3 separate regions of the Homo sapiens genome follow, and regions 2 and 3 are each linked to region 1. The links come from fine-mapping of genetic effects on gene expression. A gene starts in region 1. Each other region holds a variant in brackets. All regions are shown on one strand. Distances are from middle to middle.

Region 1 (8,000 bases):
CTGCTCCAGGCCTCTCCATGGCTTCTCGTGATTTGCCGTCGTCTTTGGGATTCCTTGGCTTGTAGAAGCATCACCCCCATCTCTGCCTCCATCTTCACGTGGTCGTCTTCCCCTGTGTCTGTGTTCAACTGTCCCTTTATTTTTATTTTTTATTTTTTTTGAGACAGAGTTTTGTTCTTGTGGCCCAGGCTGGAGTGCAGTGGTGCGATCTCAGCTCACCGCAACCTCTGCCTCCCGGGTTCAAACAATTCTCCTGCCCCAGCCTTCCGAGTACCTGGGATTACAGGCATGTGCCAGCACACCAGGCTAATTTTGTATTTTTTTTTTTTTTTCAGTAGAGACGGGGTTTCTCCATGCTGGTCAGGCTGGTCTCAAACTCGCGACCTCAGGTGATATGCCCACCTCGGCCTCCCAAAGTGCTGGGATTACAGGCATGACAAATGTCGCCTTTTTATAAGGACACCAGTTATATGGGATTGGGGGCCCACCCTACTTCAGTGTGACCTCATGTCAACTAGTTATATCTGCAATGACCCTATTTCCAAATAAGGCCACATTCTTAGTTCTGGGGGTTAGGACTTCACATGAATTTGGGGGGGACACAATTCAACCCAGATCAGAAGGAGTGGACTCTGGGACAGGGCAGGGAGCAGCCTTCAAGGCAGAGGTAGCCCCAGTGTCAAGGACATGCTCTGGACAGCCCTGGGCAGTGACATAACAAGAAGTCCAAAGACAGGCAGTCGGCCCTGGCTGTAAGGACATTACCCAGCCAAGGGTCTGATCTTGGACTTTGCTTGCTGGGAGCATTTTCCCAGGTGTGGTCTGAAAACCTCGAATGGCAGGAGCCAATTTGGAAGGTTTATAGATCAAACTCTATTTTGATATCTATTTGTTTAAATGGGTAGGGAGAGAATGTAACCAGCACCACAAACTCACTAATGGTTTATTAATGAGAGGATGTGAATGAAGTGGCTAAGTTTAAAAAAGTGAACCAGTTTTAAGAAAAAAATATCAATCCTATGTAGATATAAAAGTCCACATATGGCCAGGAGCCATGGCTCACACCTGTAATCCCAGTGCTTTGGGCTTTCGGAGGCCAAAGCAGGAGGATCCCTTGAGCCCAGGAGGTCAAGGGTGCAGTGAGCCATGACTGTACCACTGTACTCCAGCCTGGGTGACAAGAGTGAGATCCTGTCTAAAAAAAAAAAAATCCACATGCAGGTGGTATCTGAATGACAAGTTTTGGAAACTGTTCCTACATCAATTTTTAAGCAGATTTGCCCTCTCAAAAGATGGATTTGCCAGCGTAGTGGATGTGGATAGGAATGGAGAAGGGGCCGAGGAGAAAACAGCAAGGCTTGCAGGCCCACGTTGAGTCCTGAAGGTGTTGTCACAGTGGGCTCCCTGATCTCCATCCTCATAGCCAAGCTGCAAGTCTGACCCGGGTCCCCCCACCCCTCCATCCCAAGTCATCACTCCCTCCCTTAAATGGCACAACAAAACCCCTCATTGGTTCCCAAACTTTTTGAAAGTAAAAAGCCACTCCTTAGCATGGCATGCTTAATATGGAACATCAACTGGGGCCTACCTTGCTCTCCAACCCCACGTCCCTCAGGGCGCACTGCTCCTGGTGTAATAACGACACTCAAGAGATGCCCATCAATGTCTGTCACACGTATGGACACTGAATCACTGTGCCATTCACACAACTGAGCCCTACCCCACTTCCACAATTTCTCATACAATGCAATCCTTTTTTGAAAAAAAAAAAAATTCCAGTCTAAAGGCAATCTTAATATGTTAAGTTTTGAGTTTTCCTGTTTTCTTTCATGGATTTGGATTGTATCTTCAAATGCCTAAGTTGGCTTGTGTATGGTTGCTTCATCAGATGAAAAAGATGTTATGAATCTACTCTTCTTCTCTTTGGAGCTTTTAAAAAATGAGAGTCTCAAAGGAAATCTGAGATTGGTAATGATTGTTACAGGAAAGGGGTCCCAATCCAGACCACAGGAGAGGCAGGGTTCTTGGATCTCACTCAAGAAAGAATTGAGGGTGAGGCCACAGAGTAAAGTGAAAGCAAGTTTATTAGGAAAGTAAAGGAATAAAACAATGGCTACTCCTTAGGCAGAGCAGCCCCGAGGGCTGCTGGTTGCCCATTTTTATGGTTATTTCTTGATTATATGCTAAACAAGGGGTGGATTATTCATGTCTACCATTTTTAGACCACATAGGGTAACTTCCTGATGTTGCCATGGCATTTATAAACTGTCATGGCGCTGGTGGGAGTGTAGCAGTGAGGATGACCAGAGGTCACTCTCGTCACCATCTTGGTTTTGGTGGGTTTTAGCTGGCTTCTTTACTGCAACCTGTTTATCAGCAAGGTCTTCATGACCTGTATCTTGTGCTGACCTCCTATCTCATCCTGTGACTTAGAATGCCTTAACTATCTGGGAATGCAGCCCAATAGGTCTCAGCCTCATCTTACCCAGCCCCATTTAAGATGGAGTAGTTCTAGTTGGAATGCATCTGACAATTATCAGAGTTGAGCAAAATCTGGGTGACCAACCAATTAGATCACTGGCATTGGGAATAGTCAGTAGACACCATCCTATCCACAATCCTCCTGCCACAGTTACAGGATCTGTCTTGGGGATCCATCACCACGTATATATGTCAGTCTACTCCTGTACAGCTAAATAAATATGTATATAGTCTAAATAATCCTTTAAAAAACCCAGTCATCTGAAGTGAGGAAAGACGTACACGAAGTACCCTATCACTATAACCTATTTTATCTTCCTAGCCCTTAATACTCTATGCAAAATAAATTCCAAAGTTAAAAAAAATCTAACAGTGGGTTGGAACCTAGGTCTGGATATTATTCTAAGCTCTGCCACAGGCATGCAGTTTGCCCTTGGACAAATTCCTTGACTTACCACCATCTCTGTTTCACCATTCCCAGAATGCAGCCTAGCAAGTAATCCCTCCCTTTCATTACATGGAGGACAAGATACACTCACGTCCTTTCGCAAAATGGGACACCTCTCTCCTAAGAAAGATGGAAATCAGGGGGATATATTTTAAAGAGATTAGATTAAAATCAACATGGCATGTGAGAAGAAAAATGATTACGTTCTAGAGTAAACAAAACCTGAAATGAGTTTATAGTCTATTCTCACCCTTTTGGTCCAAACAAAAAAGTATTGCTTGATTATTCTTTCCTGCTTCACTAACAGATTACAAACTCCCTGGGAGAAGATAGATTCTATGTGTCATATTTTCCATTCATTAGCAATTGCTCACTGAATTGAAATATTTGCTACTTCCCCACTATAGAGTGTTTCTCAATGTGTTTCATTCAGCATTGTACTCAACAAATGTTTGCTGTATGAAGACATGTCTGTGTTGAGTGTTTACACCACTAGTTAACAACTTCCCTTTGTTAAATCTTAGGTTTCTATTTTTTCGTTTTATTAACCAATGCTGCAATATGCTTTCTCGTGCATCAGTACTTCCCTAGACATCTAATTGCCTTGTTCAATTTGTGACGTAGAATTTTGCAAAAAGGAAGTTTACACAGCGAAAAACTATATATACAAATGAAATAAAATACATGATTTAAAAAGACCGCATATTTAGAAGCAAAGGAAATATTCATAAACATTGTGGTTATTCCTCAATAGTGAAATTACTGATGCTTTCATAATCAGAATAAAATTACATATGTAATAAAGTCCGTGATACTGTCATTCAAAATAGGGGATTTGGTACTCCCTTACATTTATACAGTTCTCAACAAAAAGCCTTTTATTGTTTGCTCTGTCTGGTCTTCTCGCTTATCTCTTAAACTTGCAAACGTATAGTCCTAGCCCACCGCACTCGGTTCCGAAGAAGGCGTCCCTCGGACAAAACCGAGGAATCTGTCCTGCTCTGTAAGGAACTAGGGCTTGCTGATTCCCAGATTTTAACGAGAATCCCTGCTCCCCGTAGGCGCTCCATAAATTTTTACTGGACAACTTCACCGCGCGCTACTGGGCCTCCGGGAGACCCGTGACTCCCACCCGCTCTGGGCGCGGGCCCGCAGAGCCTCAACCCGCGCCCCCGGCAGCCGGGATTCCCCGCCCGGACCGGCTCCCAGGCTGGAAACATCATGGTCCGCACCCGGGGCGCAGCCGAGACCCACCGCGCCGGAGGCCCCGGGACCCGCTCAGACCGCTGCTTGGCCACTCTACGCCCCTGAGCCCCCCACACAGCCAGCCCCGTGACCTCCGAGCCCCGTGACCTCCGAGCCCCGTGACCTCCAAGCCCCGGAAGCCGCTGTAGGCAGCGGCCCAGCCAGGCCCCGCCCCCTCCACCGGAGCTCCACGCGTCAATTCCAGCCAGGCCCCGCCCCCGGCCGCCCCAGGCGTGGACCCAAGCCAGGCCCCGCCCTCTGCCTGGCTACTCCAGGCGCCCACCGCCCCAGGCGTCCTCTAGCCCAAGCCCAATGCCCGGCTGCTCCAGACGTCGACAGCCCCATGCCCCGCCTCCTAATCGGCTGCTGCTGGCGTCCTCTGGTCCAGGCTCCGCTCCCTACCCGGCTGCTCCAGGCATCCTCTAGGCTAGACCCCGCCACCTACCGGCCGCTCCAGGCGTCCGCAGCTCCAAGCCCCGCCCTCCGCCCGGCTGCTCCAGGCGGCCTCCGGCTCAAGCCCCGCCCCCTGCCCGGCGGCTCCAGAGGTCCGCGGCTCCAGGCCCCGACCCCTGCCCGGCTGCACAAGGCGTCCTCTGGGCCAGGCCCCGCCCCCAGCCCGGCCGCTCCAGGCCCCGCCCCGCCCCCTCTGTGCGCGCTCCGCTCGGCAGCCTGTGGGACGCGACCGCGGCGCTAGTCTCGTTCCTTTGTGCTGCGGCGGCGGCTTCTCGAGTCCTCCCCGACGCGTCCTCTAGGCCAGCGAGCCCCGCGCTCTCCGGTGACGGACCATGTCGGCGGCGGGAGCGGGCGCGGGCGTAGAGGCGGGCTTCTCCAGCGAGGAGCTGCTCTCGCTCCGTTTCCCGCTGCACCGCGCCTGCCGCGACGGGGACCTGGCCACGCTCTGCTCGCTGCTGCAGCAGACACCCCACGCCCACCTGGCCTCTGAGGACTCCTTCTATGGCTGGACGCCCGTGCACTGGGCCGCGCATTTCGGCAAGGTGGGTGCGAACGCTTTAAGGCGCCATTTTCCCCGGCTGTCCAGTGGGAGTCGGGGAAAGCGGGTCTGAGGTGCGGGGGACGTGGGGCGTGCCGGGATCGCGGGGCGGAAGCGGGATCGACGGCGCCTGTGCCCCGAGGGGCCTAGGGCGCCTGTGCGGCAGCGCTCGCGGCCCGGAGTCGCGGCGGGGCAGCCGGGGGGCGCGGGGCGGAAGCGAGGTCGGTGGCGCCTGCGTCCGGAGGGGCCTAGGGCGCATGTGCGGCGGCGCGCGTAGCAAGTTTCTAACAAGGCGGGCTCCAAGGGTCCCGGCGCCTGTTGGCCGGATCCTGTGCGAGCGCGCGCGCGCGCGGATGGTGCGGGGCCCTCCAGGCCGGGCCGGAGGCGCGAGCGATTTCGCAGAGCCGGGTATTAGGCCGCGAAGTCGCCCAGGCGGCTTCCGGGGAGCCGAGCTGGGGTCAGAGGCGCGCGGGGAATGCCCGGGCGCGGTCGACCTTCTGGTTCCGCACAGCCTCGCCAGTAGCCGAGGGCCGCGCTGCGGACGAGCTCAGCCGAGGAGCAAGCGCCCCGGCGGGACTGGAAGGCCCCGGCAGCTGTGTGGGATGGAGGCCGGCTCTCCAGCTTCTGGGTTTGCTTTAAGGCTTGTAGCTGGCCCCGCTTCAGCAAAATTAGTGACGGCTGTGTTTATCTTGGATCTAAATTACTGCAGAAGTGGTTAAATTAAGCAGAATTCTCTTCCCGTGGAGGCTTTACGTTCCCCTCTTTTTTCTTAAACTGAAAATTCTGGGGGAACACAGTGCTGCTTTAAGGTTTTAAAAGGTTGGATAGCTACCGTTTCCTCATCTGTGAAGTCGTTGGGGTACTTGCTCTCAGAAATCTTAAATAAGATTTCACCGTGCATTTCAGAAGTGACTGGTTTTAATTAATATTTCTTAATTCACTGAAATTCAGGGATGTGTATAGTGTTTTTCTCGTAAGTGATGAGATGGGGTTAAATGGTTTTGCAGAAATATGTGAGAGGTAATGTGAAATAAGTTACTTTAAGAAGGCCTGGCCCTGGTAATGTCGTTACCAGCTGATGAAGTTGCGGTTTACCTTGCTGCCCCTGGTGCTACATTCACAAAGCAGCTGTGTCTTTTGGAAAGCAGTTTCTGATTCTTTTAAAGTGGAAAAGTCACTTTTCTTTCAATAAAAGAAATGAAAAGGAGTTTTGACGATCGGGGTGGGACAAGCAAGTTAATCAGTCCTCAAGGGCTGTTAGGTTCCTGTGGCACTGTCTCTGAAGTTGTGCAACCGTAGTACCTGCTGGAGAAAACAGGTGCCCAGGGGAAATGAGTTTCTTAACAAACAAAAGTAATAAAGCCTCCTCCCTGCGCTTCTGCGTGCAGCCTTAAATAGATTTCCCGAGGCAGTCAGTAATCTGAGGATTTCCTCCCTCCAGAGTGTCTCTTGCTGTGGTTTATTTTTACACTAAACTTTAGGATTCTGTCCTTTCTACCCTGGTTGAGAACGACACAATACTGGGTGATAGTCAGTGAACAACGATCTGTAGAATGCTTAAAGCCTCATTACAGATGGTCACTTAGAAAATTTAATCCAGTGGTGCCTCCACTTGTCTCTGGGGATTAAAATAGTTACTTTAAAATGGTAATTTTTAATGTGTATTTTATCACAGTTTTTTAAAAAACACCGACTGAAATCACTTTTCAAAAGTCTACTTCCATGGGACTTTGAGTAGTAGCTTTACCTTGGTCATCAAATGTTGTAACAAGAAGCAGTTACTTCATTGTTTCCAGCTGTCTGAATCATAGGGCTCTTTGGTCTTAGATACGGAAGGGGCCTTAGAAAGCCCCTGTCCAGTGTCCAAACATTCCCTTCTGAGAAGAAGCCGTTAGGACAGAAATCAGGCCAGGACTCAGGGCTACCGCTTGCGAAGTCCAGGCTTTCTCCCCAGCCCTGCTAACGGCTGCCCTCTTACACAGGTTTCAGGCTCGTGTTCTTAGAAATGTGCTAGTGGTGCACAAGATCCCCTAACCGTTGGTAAGACTCGTTTGTTGCCAGAGGACTAAACGAGTTGTTTAAAATCTCTGTTGTAGCTTTTATACCATATTGAACAGTATCTTTCCAGAATTCCAAATCCAAGTTTCTAAATTGAACCCAAGGGTAACAGGTTTAAAGCCAGCGAGCCCTGAATAGCTGATTTTTGGTACGCCAAGTGATTTTCATCCGTTTTATTTTTATTGGATTTGCAACCTGTTCATCTTATCGCTAATTAATACTTTCATTTTCACCCAGTGAATTAATAAAGGCAATAAATAGACATCAGCCTTTACTCCCAGGTCCAAGTTGGTTGAAGAGGGTGTTTTGAATCTGTGTACTCTTCATCTCACAGGAGTGTTTACTGAAAGCCTGAAAGTGCTAAGAGAAATGGAAAAAGAAACCTTGAGTTGAGATGGTAGTGTCAGGTGTTTTGTCTTCAGGTGAGGTCTCTCCTCTTGAAGAGAATTGCTTGCAGTCAGGCATAGCTTGTTCCCTAACTGCATTGTGATTGGAGTGAGGGAAAATGAGCAGTCCAGGATCAGAGAACGTGGGTTGAACAGTTGCTTGGCACATGGTAGGCACTTGGTAAATTTGTTGAATGCGCTAAATTATTTTAGCCAGAGGCTATCATGGTATTGGTGCTTGGCCACAAAGTCTTAACTTGCCATGTTAGTCACCCACTAGGTGCATTGCTCAGTTATGCTGTAGGCTTTTTTCCCCCATAGGGTTTTGAAAAGAGTAAAAAAATGTGGAGAATGGGGCCTCTATTGATTATTCAATGAGTATTCAGTGCTG
Region 2 (8,000 bases), 41 kb after region 1:
GGCTTGGGGGCCGGCGGGGTGTGGATATCTGTGGAAGGAATGGGAAGGGAAGAGAAGTTTACTATTGTTTCATTTTGCTTATAAGATTTTACTTGACTCTTCTGACACTCTTCATACGGTGTTTTTTCTATTTTTGAGTTTCTACTCTAGTTTTATGGGCACCGTTGGTACTGAACCTCTGTGGAGGAAGGATGAATTGCATGTCAGTTCAGTATTGTGCCTGGGTGCTTATTTTCATAAAAGACAGCAACCATAATGTTCTAAACTTCTTTGGTTTTAGCAACTGTTAATTAATGTAAGCCTTTTAGGAATATGAATTACAGTTATAAATAGCACCAATATAGCCATTCTGGCATGCCTACATATGCAATTTAAAACATTCACTGCATCATGCATATTCTTGTAAAAACTTAATAGACCACAATGAGGGAGCATTATGCTTTGGAAGTTTTGCAAAAATTACAGTGAGAACAGGAAGAGAATGCATGGCGCTGTCCAGGCCACCGCCTCCCATCCTATGGCAGACACTAGTAATCAAGCTTAGAACTGAGATTTGGCCTCAGACTGATCCAAGAAGCCACCCACACTACTGAGTTTTTAAGAGAGATGAAACTTGATGCCATCCCGTTTGGACTGTTTTCTAAGGTATTCCAGATGTTCTATAGTGACTTAATTATTTGCTGAAAAACGTTGTGAATCTCTGAAAACACAGTAAACATACTTTTGATTAGTCTTGAATTTTTGGACAGAAGATGACTGCTTAGGAACAAAAATGTTGCATAGAACCTAGAGTAGGGCAACATCCACACTTGAGTGGATGATTGAAGTAGTTTGTCATATTCTAGTTTAGAGTCATTTACACCAGTATATTCAGTTCTTATTTAGTGATACATAAGGAAATGGTGATGATGGAATTGCTTTCATGCCTGGAATTTGCTTCAAACCATAAAAATATGAGTGGAGCCCATGATCCCTGGTGAGTGGAGACAAGGATCAAACACAACTGGTGCAGGCCGATGTTAAATCTGGGTGGTGGGTATGTGAAGGTGCGTTAGTCTGTGTATTTTGTATTTATTTGAGACAAGTTTTTTGGGGTTTTTTTTTTCAGGACTTGAAGAAAAAATGCTCTATTAAAAAATATGGTTGTCATTTTAACATTGAGAATAAGCTTAGGTATTTCTGTGTCCACCAGAATTGACGTTTATACTGACTGCAAGAATAGCTCACTGAGTCTTAGCCTTTTTGGCCTGCAGATACTTTCCCATGCATGCATTCTCTTGTACTAGTAGAAACAATTGGAAAATGAAATAAAGCCCATTTACAGTGACACCCAAACCATGGCATACCTATGAAAATATCTTAACAAAAGATGTTCAAGACCTCTACACTGAAAACTATAAAACATTACTCAGAGATAGAATACCTAAATAAATTTTTGGTTGAAGTATGTGGAGAAAATCTGGCCTTACACAGATAGGTAATTGGAAAAAGGGATATTTGAATCGTCTTTGCAGTTAATTGTGAGTACTTGATACCATGCCCAAACTCTGTAGTGGTCGTGGGGCAGGAGAATAGGAAGTTAGGGTAACCAAGGGCTAAGGCATAAGCAAAAGAACAGCAGGTACAGCCAGTTCTAGGCAAGATTAGGCAGCACTCAGACCACAGCCTCCTACCTGTGATAACAAGACAGTCTCCACTTCAGCCTCTGATTGGTTGCAGGCTAATCTTTCATAGGGTGCAGCCAATTGGAGGCCTCTAAAGGTCACCTAGGGGTGTTACCAAATTCTTTTAGCTTAGTAAAAACCCTAGAGGGGGCACTCTTGACCCTGGCTCAAGTTGGCTCCCACTCTGGAGGGTACTTTTGCTACAATAAATCTGCGCTTTTTTTGCTTCTTTCGTTGTTTACTTCTTTTGTTGCTTTGTGTGTTTGGTTCCATTCTTTATTCAGCTGCACCAGGAACCTGGACAACTCGCAGTCAAGACCTTCCATTCAGTAACAGTAGTTTCTTAAAGGCTAGTTGCAATGTTGAATCAGGATCCACATCAGTGAGCTTCTTGTATCGTTCCTGTAGAGTCCATCTTTCACTTAGAATGGACCTTTAACCCATGCATAATTTTTTATGCATTACTTGGGAAATATTTTTTAATTGAGTTCTGCAAGTCTTTCAAATGTTGAAACTTTTCATTAATATTAAAACATTGATAACCAGCCAGGTGCGGTGGCTCACGCCCGTAATCCCAGCACTTTGGGAGGCCGAGGCAGGTGGATCATGAGGTCAGGAGATAGAGACCATGCTGGCTAACAAGGTGAAACCCCATCTCTACTAAAAATACAAAAAAAAAAAAATAGCTGGGTGTGGTGGCACGCACCTGTAATCCCAGCTACTTGGGAGGCTGAGGCAGGAGAATCGCTTGAACCTGGGAGGCAGAGGTTGCAGTGAGCCGAGATCACGCCACTGCATTCCAACCTGGGCAACAGAGCAAGACTCTGTCTCAAAAAAATAAAACATTGATCACCAATAATCTCATGAAAGTCAAAAGTTGGAAGTTGTCAAGCTCATGGTACTGGATACAAGTTTTACAACATCCTGATTTTTGCTGAAAAACTCAAATTTTATCATTGGACACAAATACTGTCAGTTTTCCTTGAAGTAGAAGACTCACTTGGTTAATTTTTTGGTTTTTTTAAATTGAGACGGGGTCTCACTCTGTCGCACAAGCTGGAGTGCAGTGATGCGATTTTGGCTCCTTACAGCCTTGACTTCCTGGGCTCAAGGGATCCTCCTGACTCAGCCTTGGAGGTAGCTGGGACTCCAGTCGTGCACCACCATGCCCGGCAATTTTTTTTTTTTTTGGGGGGATGGGGTCTCACTATTTTACCCAGGTTGTCTCAAACTCCTGACCTCAAGCAATCCGCCCACTTTGGCCTCCTAAAGTGCGGGGATTACAGGCTTGAGCCACTGCATTACAACCTGGTTATTTTTTTTTTAATCACATAGCTTGTCAATCATTATTTCAAATGAAAATGACGTTTCTGAAAAAGTCACTGGATACACTTATCGCACAATCAGCCAGAGCCGTGCTTTTCCTGGAGACAGCTGTACACAACAAATCCTTCATGCACACTTCCCTTTACATCACAGAGAACGTGTGCTGTCAAAATTTACTCATGTTTACAGCATTGAGGGCATTCTTAAGTGAAATTGGGTTTTTTTCTTTTTTTTGACTGCACGGCAGTGAAGAATATGAAGGTGATCAGGCCGGGGCAGTTTTTGCTAAGGTGCTAGTAGCTTTACCCACCATTTCTTTTGAACCCTCAGTGCCGAAGTCAACACTGAAAAAGGCAAATCACATCTCGGTAATGAGACCGTTTTGATTTTGGGGACCCCCTGAAATGGGGTCCTGGGGACCCTGGGGTTCTGCAGGCCACAGTGAGAGAACTGCTGGAATGTTTTGAATGATGAGATCTAAGCAACTAGTGATAAATACTGGAAAATGTAGACTGGGTATTCATTGAATTACCCTTTTTGACT[T/C]TTCCATAGGTTGGATTTTCGGGGTTTTATTAAGGAGAAGAAAACGGGAGAATAATTTGGAGACAGAACATGGGAAACATTGAAGAGTTTCCCGGAAAGGGGGAGCCAAGAAACAGGCAGCGGGTGGAAGGGAGGAGCCCTCGGGAGGGCGGGAACCGGGGGCGGGGCGCCGGCGCGGGTGCAGGGACGAACCATCAGGAGGGCGGGAACCGGGAGAGAGGCGCAGGGGCGGGGAGAGGGGGGTGAGCCGGGCGGTTCTGGCGCGGCTCTGCTTGGGGAACCGCAGCCAAGGTTGGGGCGAGGCCGTGGTTGGGATGGGCCGGGGCGGGTGAGGGGTCCCGGGGCGGTGGGAGGGTAGCGGGGGCTGCGGCAGGGCACGGCTGGAGCTGGGGGCTGGAGGTGGACACCACCCCAAGAGTCTGCACTGAGCAACGGTAACAGTGAGCCCGGGCACAGCTGCAGCCAGGGAGACCCTGAGTGTGCGAGTGTGCGTGTGAGGATGTGTATCAGTGTTTGCAAATGCATGTGAGTGAGCGAGCATGAGGATGTGTGTCCATGTATGGATGTGAGTGTGCAAATGTGTGCGAGGACTGGGAGTGTGTGAGAGCGTGTCAGTGTGGGAATGTAGGGGGAATGTGGAGGGAAGTGTGTCGTTGGCAATGTGTGAGTGTGCAAATGTGTGAGAATGTGAAGGGAAGCGTTGAGTATTGGATGTGAGTGGTAATCTGGTGTGTGTGAATGTGTGAATGTTTATGTGTGAATGTACGTGATGTGTGTGGATGTGTATGATGTGTGCGCACGTATGAATGTTGATTTGTGTGACGTGTGTGCAGATGTGTATGAATGTGTGATGCATGTGGATGTGTGTAAATGTGGCTGCTGTGCATGTGTGAATGCTATATGTGTGTGACGTTTGTGACTGTGTGTGTGCAGGTGTGACTGTTTTATATGTGTGGCTGATGTGCATGGGTGGTAGTGTATGTGAAACATGTTATATGTGTGCATGTGTGAACGTGTGTGGCTATTGTGCACGTGTGGATGTGTGTGAATGTTGCATGTGGGTGTTGTGTCGAGGTGTGGGCATGTGTGTGAATGTGACTTGTGTATCTGGATGTGTGTGAATGCAGGTGTGTGAATGTGTCACTTGTACATGTGTGGATGAATGTGCGTGTGTGAATGTTATGTGTGTGTGACTTGTGTGGGTGTGGATGTGTGTGAATGTATGCATGTGTGTGAATGTCGTGTGACGTGTGTGTGTGAATATATGTGTGACTTGTGTGGGTGTGAATATATGCATGTGTGTGAATGTCTTGTGTGTGATGTGCGATGTGGAGAATGGATGGAAGAGCAGGCGCTTGGCGAGGGGGGAGGGAGGAGGATCAGAGGCCATGGGAGAGGGCGGAGGGAGCGTAGGAGAGGCCATGGGGGAGGGGAGGGGCGGAGAGGCCACTGGGGAGGAGAGGCCGGGGTCGGGGGCGCCTGCCCACCGTGAAGAGGCCCCTGAGGGCAGCTCGGCCTCCTGTTGGGGGCCAGGGTCGGCTCTGGCGGGAAGGCCCAGGCAGTGCAGAATCATGGAGCTCAGGGGCCCTGCTGGGGTCCGCTCAGGAGCCTAGGGTCCTTAGAGAGGTCTCAGGAAATGGGCAGGGGGAGATGGGGCTGGAAAGGGGACATGTGGACAGAATGGGGTCGGAATCGGAGTCTCCCGGGCAGGAATCGCTGGGAAGGTGGACATCTCAAGCCCTGGAGAAGCTTCCAGTCCGCGGAAAGGGGAGAGGACTGGAGCTCCTGGGTGTCTGGGGCAGGACGTGGATGGGGTCACATTTTTCTCTGTTGGGAATAGCACGTGCGAGGCGTGGGCTCGGGCTTTGAAGGTTTGCAGGGTGGGGAAGGGAGGCCGGTGAAGCTCTGAAACCATCCCCGAGGGGACTCTGAGTGACCACTTTGTGGTCAATCCGCAGGGAGAGCTGAGGACGAGGCGGAGGCCCCACAGGTGAGGGCCAGGTGAAAAGCCCTACAGCTGCTGTGTTGTCGAGCCCCGTGGCCAGGCGGGGCGGGGGGCCATGGGTCCCCCAATTCTCTGGGCATTCAGCAGAAAAACCGGCAGGGCTCAGCCAGGGAAGCTGAACTAGAAGTTTCTAACCTGTGCAAGCAGAGCCACACAGGTCAAGAGGACTCTGGGAGGTCCCAGGGCTCAGGGAGGGGCTGCGGGAAGTGCAGGCTTGGGAAAGGGGTCTCCACCTGGAGTTCAGGCCTCATCCCAGTAATGGTCACAGCCACCAGATGACCAAGTGCCCCAGTACCTGGGCAGGCAGGTCCACAGTGCAGCAAAGAGGGATGTGCCTCTTGGGCAAAGTCTGGCAGAGGCTGAGGGGTGGGTACTCGCCCAGTACCTGTGCTGGAAGGTCACCTTGAAGGGGTCCCCAGGCCATGACCAGGGCTGCAGTGTCCCCAGGGTTAGAGCTGGTCAGTGCAGAACTGGGCATCCCCCTCAAAACACAGCACTGACAGCAGCAGCAGAGCGTTGAGCTGTGAGGCAGGACGTCCCACCCGGGGAGGGGCCCCTTCCTTGGGCTCACGTTCTCAGGAGATCACAGTGCAGTGTCAGCCAGGGCTGCAGTCTCATCTGAAAGCTCCCCTGGAGCCTCTGCATCCAAGCTCACGCACATGGCTGGTGACTGGACCCAGTTCCCCCCGGGTCGCTGAACTAAGGGCCTGAGTTCTTTGATGGTTGTTGGCCTAAGGCCACCCCAGCTCCGTGCAGGGGAGGGCAGGGGCCTCTCCACCAGGCACTCTGAGGAGTGCTCACCCCCCGCAGGGAGAGGCGGGAGGGACGGGGAAGGGCAGAGGACACATCAGGTTTTTCATCTTACTGCGTTTTTTTTAAAACAGGAAGATCTGAAGCCAACTACATTCAGCAAGTTTTCTTAAGAACAAAGTAAGAAAGATAAACCAGAACAGCCCTGCTTGGCTTATCCCGGCCTCGCCTTAACCCTCCCTTCCCTGCCGTCTTTCTGTGGCTCCCCTCTGCCAGGTGCCCCCTGAACTTTAAGATTCCAGGATGGTTTGAGAACAACTTCGATGTTTCTGTTTTCCCATTTATGAAGGCTACTGTGCTCTCACCAGTGAATTTAATTACAAGATTTTTAGAAGCAGCTAAAAAAATTGCAACTCAGATGCATCAGTGAATCAGTCCTATTCCCTGTCTGCTAAAGGATGTCTTTTCGTTACCATCATCTGCCGCAGGGCTTTTCTGACAGTTCATATAATTCAAGATAATTGAAGCCAATTTTGCAAGCAAAACGACAGGAACCACTACATGAAATAGCACATCAAGTCTCTGATTCACAACAATGGCACTATTTCCTCAATGGTTTTAAAATTCTCTTGGCTAGGCGTAGTGGCTCACGCCTGTAATCCCAGCACTTTGGGAGGCCGGGGCGGGCAGGTTGTTTGAGCTCAGGGGTTCAAGACCAGCCTGGGCAACAACGTGAGACCCTGTCTCTACAAAAAATACAAAAATTAGCTGGGCTTGGTGGCGCATGCCTGTAGTCCCAGCTACTTGGGAGACTGAGGTGTATCAATTGAGAAAAATGACAAGACAAGTCTCAATCATTTTAGGAGGTTTACTCGCCAAAGTTAAGGACGAACACTCGGGAGACAGTCTGTACCTTTCTCCGAAGATGATTTTGAGGGCTCCAAATTTAAAGGGGAAAGGGTGAGATAATGACAAGTACACAATTTTCATCTAAGAGGCGGGTAGAGAAAAATAGTCATGCGTTTGGCTCATTGAATCTGCATTATTTTTACACAAGATGACTTAGACAAAGGGGGCAGGGGAACAATCAGGTTTGCATTTGTGTCTGGCGGGCAGGGGTTGACTGCACCTGTAAAGATGAGCTATCGATTTGCATTGCTGTGGTGAAATCTTAACAGAAACACCTTACAGTAAAGATTGCGGAGCTCACTAGGAATTTCCTTGTGGACAAAATATAGGGGAGGTGTGCAGTTTTTCATCTTGCAGCATCTTATTTAGGGACCAAAAGGGGAGGCAGGTTTGCATGACCCAGTTCCCAGCTTGACTTTTCCCTTTGGCTTGAGTTTGGGGGCCCAAGATTTATTTTCCCTTCACAGGTGGGACGATGGGTTGCAGGGAGGATGGGAGCCTGGGAGGCAGGGTTGCAGGGAGCCAAGATCATGCCACTGCACTCCAGCCTAGGTGACAGAGTGAGATCCTGTCTCAAACAAAACAAAACAAAACAAAACCTCTCTCTGGAAGAGAAAGGAGGGACTGTGAAAACAACCGAGGGAACAGGCAGCTTTCATTACCAGCAGCATGGGATCCTCGCCCAAGGCCGAGAAAACACAGGAGTGAAATGACAGCTATAGAGGTACACTCCGCAGGCTGCATGAAAAGGACAAAAACAGTAATATACACACCAGTAAGGAACGGCATTGGCATGCTCCGCC
Region 3 (8,000 bases), 24 kb after region 1:
CCACATGGAAATTTGGTTGGTCTAAGTAGAGGACAAGCACGTATTTAACTACCTTTGGCAGGGGAAAAAGTGAAGTGGGAGAGCTTACCAGTGCTACCTATGTGTAGGCTGACACTCTGAAACTTCAGTCTCCAGGAATCTCCATATGTTGGCACTATTTTGTTGATTATTTTTCTATAAGGTTATATTTCTTTGGAAGATCAGTAAACTTGCTGTTCTAACCCAAATTCAGTGTAGTCTTCAGCTTCTGAATAAGGAATAAAGGAATCGAATGTGCTTTGGATGTTCTTTTAACAATTTCAGAATGTTGGCATGCCCTTTGAGCATCTAAACTTCCCTCAGCGAATTGGTATTTATTTATTTATTTAGAGATAGAATCTTGCTCTGTTGCCCAGGCTGGAGTGCAGTGGTGTGATCTCGGCTCACTGCAGCCTCTGCCTCCCAGGTTCAAGCGATTCTCCTGCCTCAGCCTCCCAAGTAGCAGGGACTATAGGCATGTGCCACCACCACACTCCGCTAATTTTTTGTATTTTTAGTAGAGCCAGGGTTTCATCATGTAAGCCAAGCTGGTCTCAAAGCTCCTGACCTCAGGTGATCCACCCGCTTTGGCCTCCCAAAGTGCTGGGATTACAGGCGTGAGCCACCGTGCCCAGCATGGTATTTATGATTCTAAGTGCCATTTCAAAAATCTGTTTGCTCTTTTTTATTCTCTGGTCCACTAAAGAGTAATCTTTACTGTGGGCTTTATTTCATATTTTTATTTGTCCTAATACTAAGTGGTAGCTTCTCATTTCTCTGTTTCTTGATTTTGGAGAGCAAGTCTATGCTTATCTATAGAAATAATCAGTTTGTAAACTTATGTTCTCCTTGAAGAGTTTTTGAATTTTCATGTGGCAACTTATTTTTCTGTTCACATTCTTGACAGAATAGACCCTCCCAGGTCATCTGCACTTCTGATATCTTTTGAAAGTGAAATATACCATTAAAAAAAAGTCCAGCTATATGATGAAGCTGTCACGTAATATTAGTATATTTTCTATTTCAATAACAAGGTGATCTGATTTTGTACAAAGTATAATTAATGTAATACAATCTGCCCAAACTTTGGTGCTTCCTTTTCATTTAATTCATATATCAAAATAAAAATATTATGCAATACTAGAAAATACTCATGGCCATTCATAGCCATGCAGTCTTAATAAGGCTAATAAAAATAGTGACTTTAGTCTGTAATAGTCCTGCACATAGCCGCCTTATATTTTTAAGAATTTTGTTGGTTTCTGAGATTCTCAATTCTCTTTTATCTCTGATCAGATAGGATTTGGGTCTTTTTTCAAAAGGTGTAATGCATTTATCTTATGCTTTAAAAAGTAGAGACGCTTAGCTAGTGTCCATGCACACTTCTCATTTCCAAGGTCAGAGCTCTATGATGTCTGCAAATAACGAATACAAGGCTATTGTCAGTCCTTATAAATAAGAAAATATTATTTGTCCCTAATTCTGTAGTTTTCACTCTCAAATGCGGGGTTTTTTTTTTTTTTTTTTTTTTTTGCATTAACAGTAACCCCAAGAAAGGCATCAGGGTTCTGGAGTGGTTGTTTGAGTGACACAGCACAAGGCCTTGATTTCATCATGCTTTTGCTGTGGATGTAGTGTAGCTTGCTGAACAGGTATGGAAGCTGTCTTTGCTGTTAAGTACTTCTCCCGTTTGTTTATCAACCTGCAGCTAACAGGATGTCTGCTTTTTTACAGGTTTATTTCACAGAGCAGTGTACATTCTTGTCTTCCAGGGGAACTTCAACATGGAGTTACTTTTGATCCCTCAGTTTTAATTCAGTGTCTAAAGGTTTACAAGTTCAACTTACTCTATTTTATTCAGCTCTTTCACTTACTCTGCCATCACTTCCTACTTGAATCTGAGTTTTAGCTACTGTAGAGGTCTCAGACCTTTCCTTTTTAGTACTATTAGCCAGGTAAAACTTTGGTTCTTGTGAGTGGTAGGGATGAGTTTTTAGGACAGTATTCAAAGCCTTTTTAAAGGAACCAACTACTCAAATGCTCTACAATGCCAAAAATACAATACTCCTGCAGGTTTTCCCAAGCAAGGCCAAAACAATCAAAATCTGACAGAAAAACACAGCTGTTCAGCTCTGGAATCTGATGATAGGCTACTTTTTAATGTCAGGACATCCTTCTAAACTTCCACTTACAGTGTCACATGTAAGCATGAAGGCTGGCTCGTTGGTGAGCCATTGCTTTGTTTTTAGGAAGACAGTTATGAATGCCATGGACAATCTCAGTACATGTTGTTTGTTATGATTTTATTCACGCTAAAGGAATGGGTATTAAAATTAAGTGCATATAATATAGAATTCAGTTTCAAGTCTGAAGTTAGCGTAAATTTAGATTCTTCAGACTAACATAAAACATGATTTTGAGAAGTTAAATAGGAAGATGCCTTTTTTAGAAGTTTAGCATATTTAGTTTATCTCCCAAATCTTGCTTAGAAATCAAATGTATATAAGAGAAGTTAGTTACAGAGCTAGATTGATTAACTACTTCTTTAATGAAGATTTGCTATGAATTTGTTTACTCTTTCATACCACCTTCAGATAGCTAGTCAGTTCAGCAGGAGCAGAGACCAGGTTAGCACGCGGATGGGGTGTAATTCAGTGTTTTTGTGTTGTACAGCCTGAGAAATGCCAGTGGCCTGACAGCAGCAGACATTGCACAAACCCAGGGTTTCCAAGAGTGTGCCCAGTTTCTCTTGAACCTCCAGAATTGTCATCTGAACCATTTCTATAACAATGGCATCTTAAATGGGGGTCATCAGAATGTATTTCCTAATCATATTAGTGTGGGAACAAATCGAAAGAGATGCTTGGAAGACTCAGAAGACTTTGGAGTAAAGAAAGCTAGAACTGAAGGTGAGACCGCTTTGCGGGTGGGAAGAGCACACTTATTTTTCCTTTCTGTAATATGTTTTCTTTTTATGGCTGAGCGCACCTTCGAGATGAGACCTTCACTTCAGGTGGTAATGCGCCTGGTGGATTGTGCGGTGACGGTGGAGATTTCTCCTGTACTGCCACTGCGAAGATGGGAC[T/ACT]TAACAAAAGGGAATGTGAGGGAAATACTGATGGCCCAAGTGTAAATGTCTATGTGGAACTTTTTGAGCACCCATGTTTACCTGCCATGAATTAGATTTTTTAATTTGTTGTATCTGTTTGAAATATATCTATTAAAGAAAATCTGCCACTGTGCCTGAATTTTTTTTTTTTTTTAATTTGCTTCTTGTAAATGTTCCTGGGCTTATAAAAATTGCTGATGGTCTGGCAGTAAAACATTTTCACATTCGGGAAGGTGAATGTTTTCTGTACTATTTCTGTACTATGATTTGACCTCAGTGGTCTCTGTACCTCACATGTGTGTTGACTTATCACAGCAAGATCTGGTGTATAATTTGATCTTGAGGATTTAAGTCCCTAAGGTAAGTTATTTTCGTTGTAAGTATTCTCCCACCATTTTTTTTTTTTTTTTTTTTGCTCTGTCACCCAGGCTGGAGTGCAATGCTGTGATCTCGGCTCACTGCAACCTCCGGCTCCCAAGTTAAAGCAATTCTCCTGTCTCAGCCTCCCAAGTAGCTGGGATTACAGGTGCATGCTATCACACTGGGCTAATTTGTATTTTTAGTAGAGAAGGGGCTTCACCATGTTGGCCAGGCTGGTCTTGAACTCCTGGCCTCCAGTAAGCCACCTGCCTCGGCCTCCCAAAGTGCTGGGATTACAGGCATGAGCCACTGTGCCTAGCCGTTTTTTGGGTTTTTTGTTTTTTGTTTTTAAGGTAGGTTTGAGTTTGCAAATAAGCAGTCAGCCAGTCACTCTTGAAGTTGAAAACATCTCCCTTTCCTATAGGAAAATCATCTATATCTATATATAAGATGTCTTAGGCCAGTTGTCATGGCTCATACCTGTAATCCCAGCACTTTGGGAGGCTGAGGCAGGAGGATTACTTGAGCTCAGGAGTTCGAGACCAGCCTGGGCAACATAGTGAGACCTTGTCTCTATTTAAAAAAAAAAAAAAAAAAAAGTCTTAATAAGAAGGTAAATGTGATAGCTTGGCAGGCATATTTAGTGAACTTAGGGGGAGAGGTGGGAGTGTGAAGTAATGAAGCAGATTATGAGCTCAGATTTGCTGAGTATAAGCACAAAGTTTTGCCCGTTGGTTTAAAAAAATCAACCGTGCAAGTTACAGCATAAGGAAAACTGAGTGACTATCAGTTAATCACTTAAAAATCTAGAGATTTTGGTTAAATTTCATGAACCAACATCATCTTTTCTACCTTATTTAATGAGTGTGTCCAAGTGAAACATTTTTTCCCTATAAAGTTGATAAAATGTCAGTATTATGTACTTCACAACTATATCTTGTCACCATAAAAATTCCTGTGATAAGACTTTTTATAGTAATGTATGAACTTAACAGTTTTATCAAATTCAAGATTTTTATGAGTTAAGCATTTCTGGAAAGATGCTAAAATCATAAGCATGACATGAAGATCTGCATAAAATTCAAAATGGTCTTTTTTAATGGTGATGTATTCAGCATTGTCATTTATTTGTACCATGTTTTAATATATTTTTTCTAATGTAGTTTCAACGCCTTTTTAAGAGCATCCACTTTTTAAAAAAATCCTTTGTCATTTCCTTTAATTAAAGCCTGGTTAGTATTGTAGAGTGGCCTCATGCCCTCATGCACGAATTGTACATGTCTGTCCCTGTATGTCACTGTATAGTCTAAATGTCCTTGAAAAATGATTTATGCTTCATTTTCTCTTATTGCTGATAAATCTTAAATTCTGTTTAGTATTTTTAAAAAGAGATCACTTAACATGCTAATTGGACTCAAAATGCACCTAGAAGAGTTCGTAAAACTAGTCTCAGAGTTTCTAAGGTCAGTTGAATTGGCCAATACCACATTGCTTAATTACCCTGAAAAGCATTTCTGAGGATTCCTTGTTTCCTAATCCTCGTTAACTACATAAATTTGGTTTAAAGAGTCCTGCTGACTTTGGGGGTTTTATTTTCTTCCTTTAGAAGGAGGATTTGTTTTGGTTGACCAGTGATTAGAAGTTCACATTTTGCACATTAAACTCACCATGCAGCCTTCCCAAACTATACATTCCTGGTCCCAAGCCCGAGGGTGCTAATTTAGACAAAAATATGGTTGGAGCCGGCACTTCTGCTTAAGTGTTGCAGGTAATACGTAGACCTAACAGGTTGAGCCACTGTTGCAGGTACACAGTACATGACTGATGTTTCTGTGATTATCACAGTTGAAATATTTCAGCCAAGATGCACATTACTTCAAAGCTGCTCATCCTTGGTTTTCCTAATTTGTATACTGACCATGACTTTACTAATTTCCTGGAACTTCTGATGGTTCTGTCTTTTATGTAGTTGACAGTCCTTAGATTTGCCACACTCGTCACAAGAGTGTGTTTATATTTTTTTGTGTCTGTGTGAGCATAGATGGGCATCTTTAGCTCACCTGCACTCCCACCACTCGTTTCCCTATGGGAAAAGGTGATTTTTTGCCCCCCTTTTACCATTACATACTGAGAGTGCTGATGTCGGGTATTGGGAGTCATTCTTGGTCATTAAAACAGGATTTTTTTTTCTGCCAATTACCTGAATGTTCTACATGAAATTGTTCTTGGTTTCAATAGATATATAATTATTTCCATATTAACTGACCAGTTTTTTAGTTTTGAATTAAAGATATGTTGCTTTAGTTTTCGTTGTAATTTCTGGCATCTTGTTTTGATTTTGTTTAAATGTGTGTTTTAAGTTTTGCTTAATCTGAATTATTTTATTAGGTTTTTGGTTCTCATGCCAGAGTAAAAGAAATGATAAATTCTTTTTTCCTCATTTAACACATGTATATAAAATACTTTGAGTAACTTCACATATAAAAATATTTAGAAGAGTTTAAGCTGGGTTTTTTGTTTTGTTTGGCTTTAAAAACAAAAAAAGTTACAGGTGCCAGGGATAATATCTTGGCTGCGTAACTTGTATCTTACCAATAAAACTTAGTGCGTTCTGTTTTCCTAGAATTTAAGAGTTACAAATATTGATGCTTTTAGTGTGGAATTTATATTTACAAAAGTAATTACTTCCAGAAAGTTTTCTGGCTAAGTCACCTCTTAAGGAGATCCCTGTAAAATTCACCCTTTAAAAAAGAAAAAGAAAAAGCCAAAACACTTTGGAATCCTGAGTCTGAATGTTAACCATTCTTCCCCACAAAAAGTAGTGTCTGCTTTTAGTAAACTACTTTCAAGTATTTTAAATTGGAGGAATTTTCTTTTGGAAGCTGTTGATGTAAAAGATCTTAAGTGAAGAAGAAAGACTTGGCCTTTTGTATTGCTTGAATATTAACTGTCTTGGAAGGAAGTTATGCTACAAGAAGTCATACTTTCATAAAATTATTTGCATCTGTGTCAAATGCAGTTTAGTCAGAACGTAAGACATAATAGGTGTGGACATGAACTCTGGAGTGTGAAATAAAATCCACAGTTACTTAAGCAGTCTGTTTTGATGGAAAGTATCTTGGGATAATACTTTCCTCAGTGTGGGATTTTGTTCATTTTAGATGGTGCAAGGAAGTATCAGTCTTTAATTTTTTTGTTGTTGTTTTTATCAATCATTTGCTCTGATGGTATGATGCATGGGCTTCAGGACTCCAGCTGCACCACTGTATAAAACTCAGTTCAGGTTTGCTAGCGTTCTTGGTTAATCTTCAGGAATAACCCAATACAATTATTTTTATATGTACTCCTTGGAAACTGTGGTCGTTTTTCAATGATCTTGGTTAGAAAAGAATGCCAGTCCCTTCCATGAGTGAAAACTTGATTTTGCTGATTGATAATTGTTTTGGATGGAGCTCTAGAGTCGTGGGGAAGAAGCAGGGGAACACAGTGAGTTTAAAAACTGACCCAATAACTTCAATTTCACAATTGGGACATTTGCCCCAGAAGTAGGCTGTGGTGACAGCAGATCTCAAGTGTCAAACTGACTTCACAGCTCGGTCTTAATCACATAGGCATATTACTGATCTTAGAATCTCATTCATACTGTGAAGGTATTGAATATAAAAACACCTTACAGAAAAAAGTATCTACAACATGATGATTTAAAGGTAAAATTACCGGTGGAAAGTTTTAACACTTTCCCAGAGTGGATTTAACCTGGATAAAGGATCTCTGCCTTTTGTCCTTAGCTGTTCGTGTTGAGCAGGGTTAAAGACTTGGTAAAGGAGGGCAGATATGACCAGCTGGTTTGTTAAATGATAGATGTTTATTGCTTGAAACTTGAGAGGAAATAAAATGCCTCCCAGGAGTAAATTTGTAATTTAGTTCCTTCTAGTTTAGTTACATATTATAGCACTTTAACTCCTGACGTCCTCACTGTTTTCAAATTTGCAGTATATTTGTTTATAAAAATGTGGCCAGGATGATAGAACACACCTACCTAATTGTGTTCAAATAAGGAGTGATTGTTTTTTCTTGATCCCTGAAGATGTGACGTCTTGAAATACAGTCTGAATTACACTTCCAGTCCAGACAGTGTCTGCGTTTTCCACTGTTAAAAGTCTCCATTTGAGCAAACCTCATGGGCCTGAGTTGTCCTCAGCACAGTTGTGGACACTCCAGTGGGAAGCAAAACGAAGACTGGCACACTTGATCACAAGCCGCTTTTGTATTATTTGAGCCAAACCCCCAGTCCCCCCCGGTCTTTCCAGAGCACTCAGTTCCCTTCTCTGTCCTTTGTCGCTGCTGCTTCCTGCTGCCTGGAGTCATCCCAACCCTCTGCACTGCTGGAATCTGGGCCCTGGCGGGTCCCGCGAAAGGTCACCTCATAATAGAAAAACAATTTGGTTTTAACAGGACCTTAAAAAGTTGAGTAAAATGTGCTCTACAGCAGAACAAAGAATAGTTCCAGGTAATG

Direction of the effects. Alleles are on the strand shown, and positions count from the first base shown. SD is a standard deviation of normalised expression in the study named. Not every link is listed here.
With allele T in place of ACT in region 3, the expression in whole blood of the gene that starts at base 4,825 in region 1 is higher (small effect, 0.29 SD a copy in Lepik 2017).

The links. PIP is the estimated chance that this variant, and not a neighbour inherited with it, causes the effect.
Region 2: its variant is fine-mapped to the expression of ANKRD10 in whole blood (TOPMed, PIP above 0.99).
Region 3: its variant is fine-mapped to the expression of ANKRD10 in whole blood (TOPMed, PIP 0.98).

What each region holds. Positions count from the first base shown.
Region 1 is chr13:110,911,894-110,919,893 of GRCh38, reverse strand. ANKRD10 (ankyrin repeat domain 10) reads left to right here and starts at 4,825. Exons shown (of 6, transcript NM_017664.4): 1 at 4,825-5,169. The coding sequence starts at 4,960. RefSeq lists silencers at 3,984-4,143, 4,274-4,933, 5,204-5,573 and enhancers at 3,511-4,185, 5,684-5,813, 5,537-6,213.
Region 2 is chr13:110,870,516-110,878,515 of GRCh38, reverse strand. No RefSeq gene overlaps it. Among named protein-coding and RNA genes, the nearest start is that of PRECSIT, 4.2 kb to the right of the region's middle. RefSeq lists a silencer at 3,628-3,847 and enhancers at 4,785-5,662, 7,908-8,000. The variant T/C (reference allele first, on the strand shown) is at 3,534.
Region 3 is chr13:110,887,955-110,895,954 of GRCh38, reverse strand. ANKRD10 (ankyrin repeat domain 10) reads left to right here. Exons shown (of 6, transcript NM_017664.4): 4 at 2,692-2,927. Among named protein-coding and RNA genes, the nearest start is that of PRECSIT, 22 kb to the right of the region's middle. The variant T/ACT (reference allele first, on the strand shown) is at 3,104.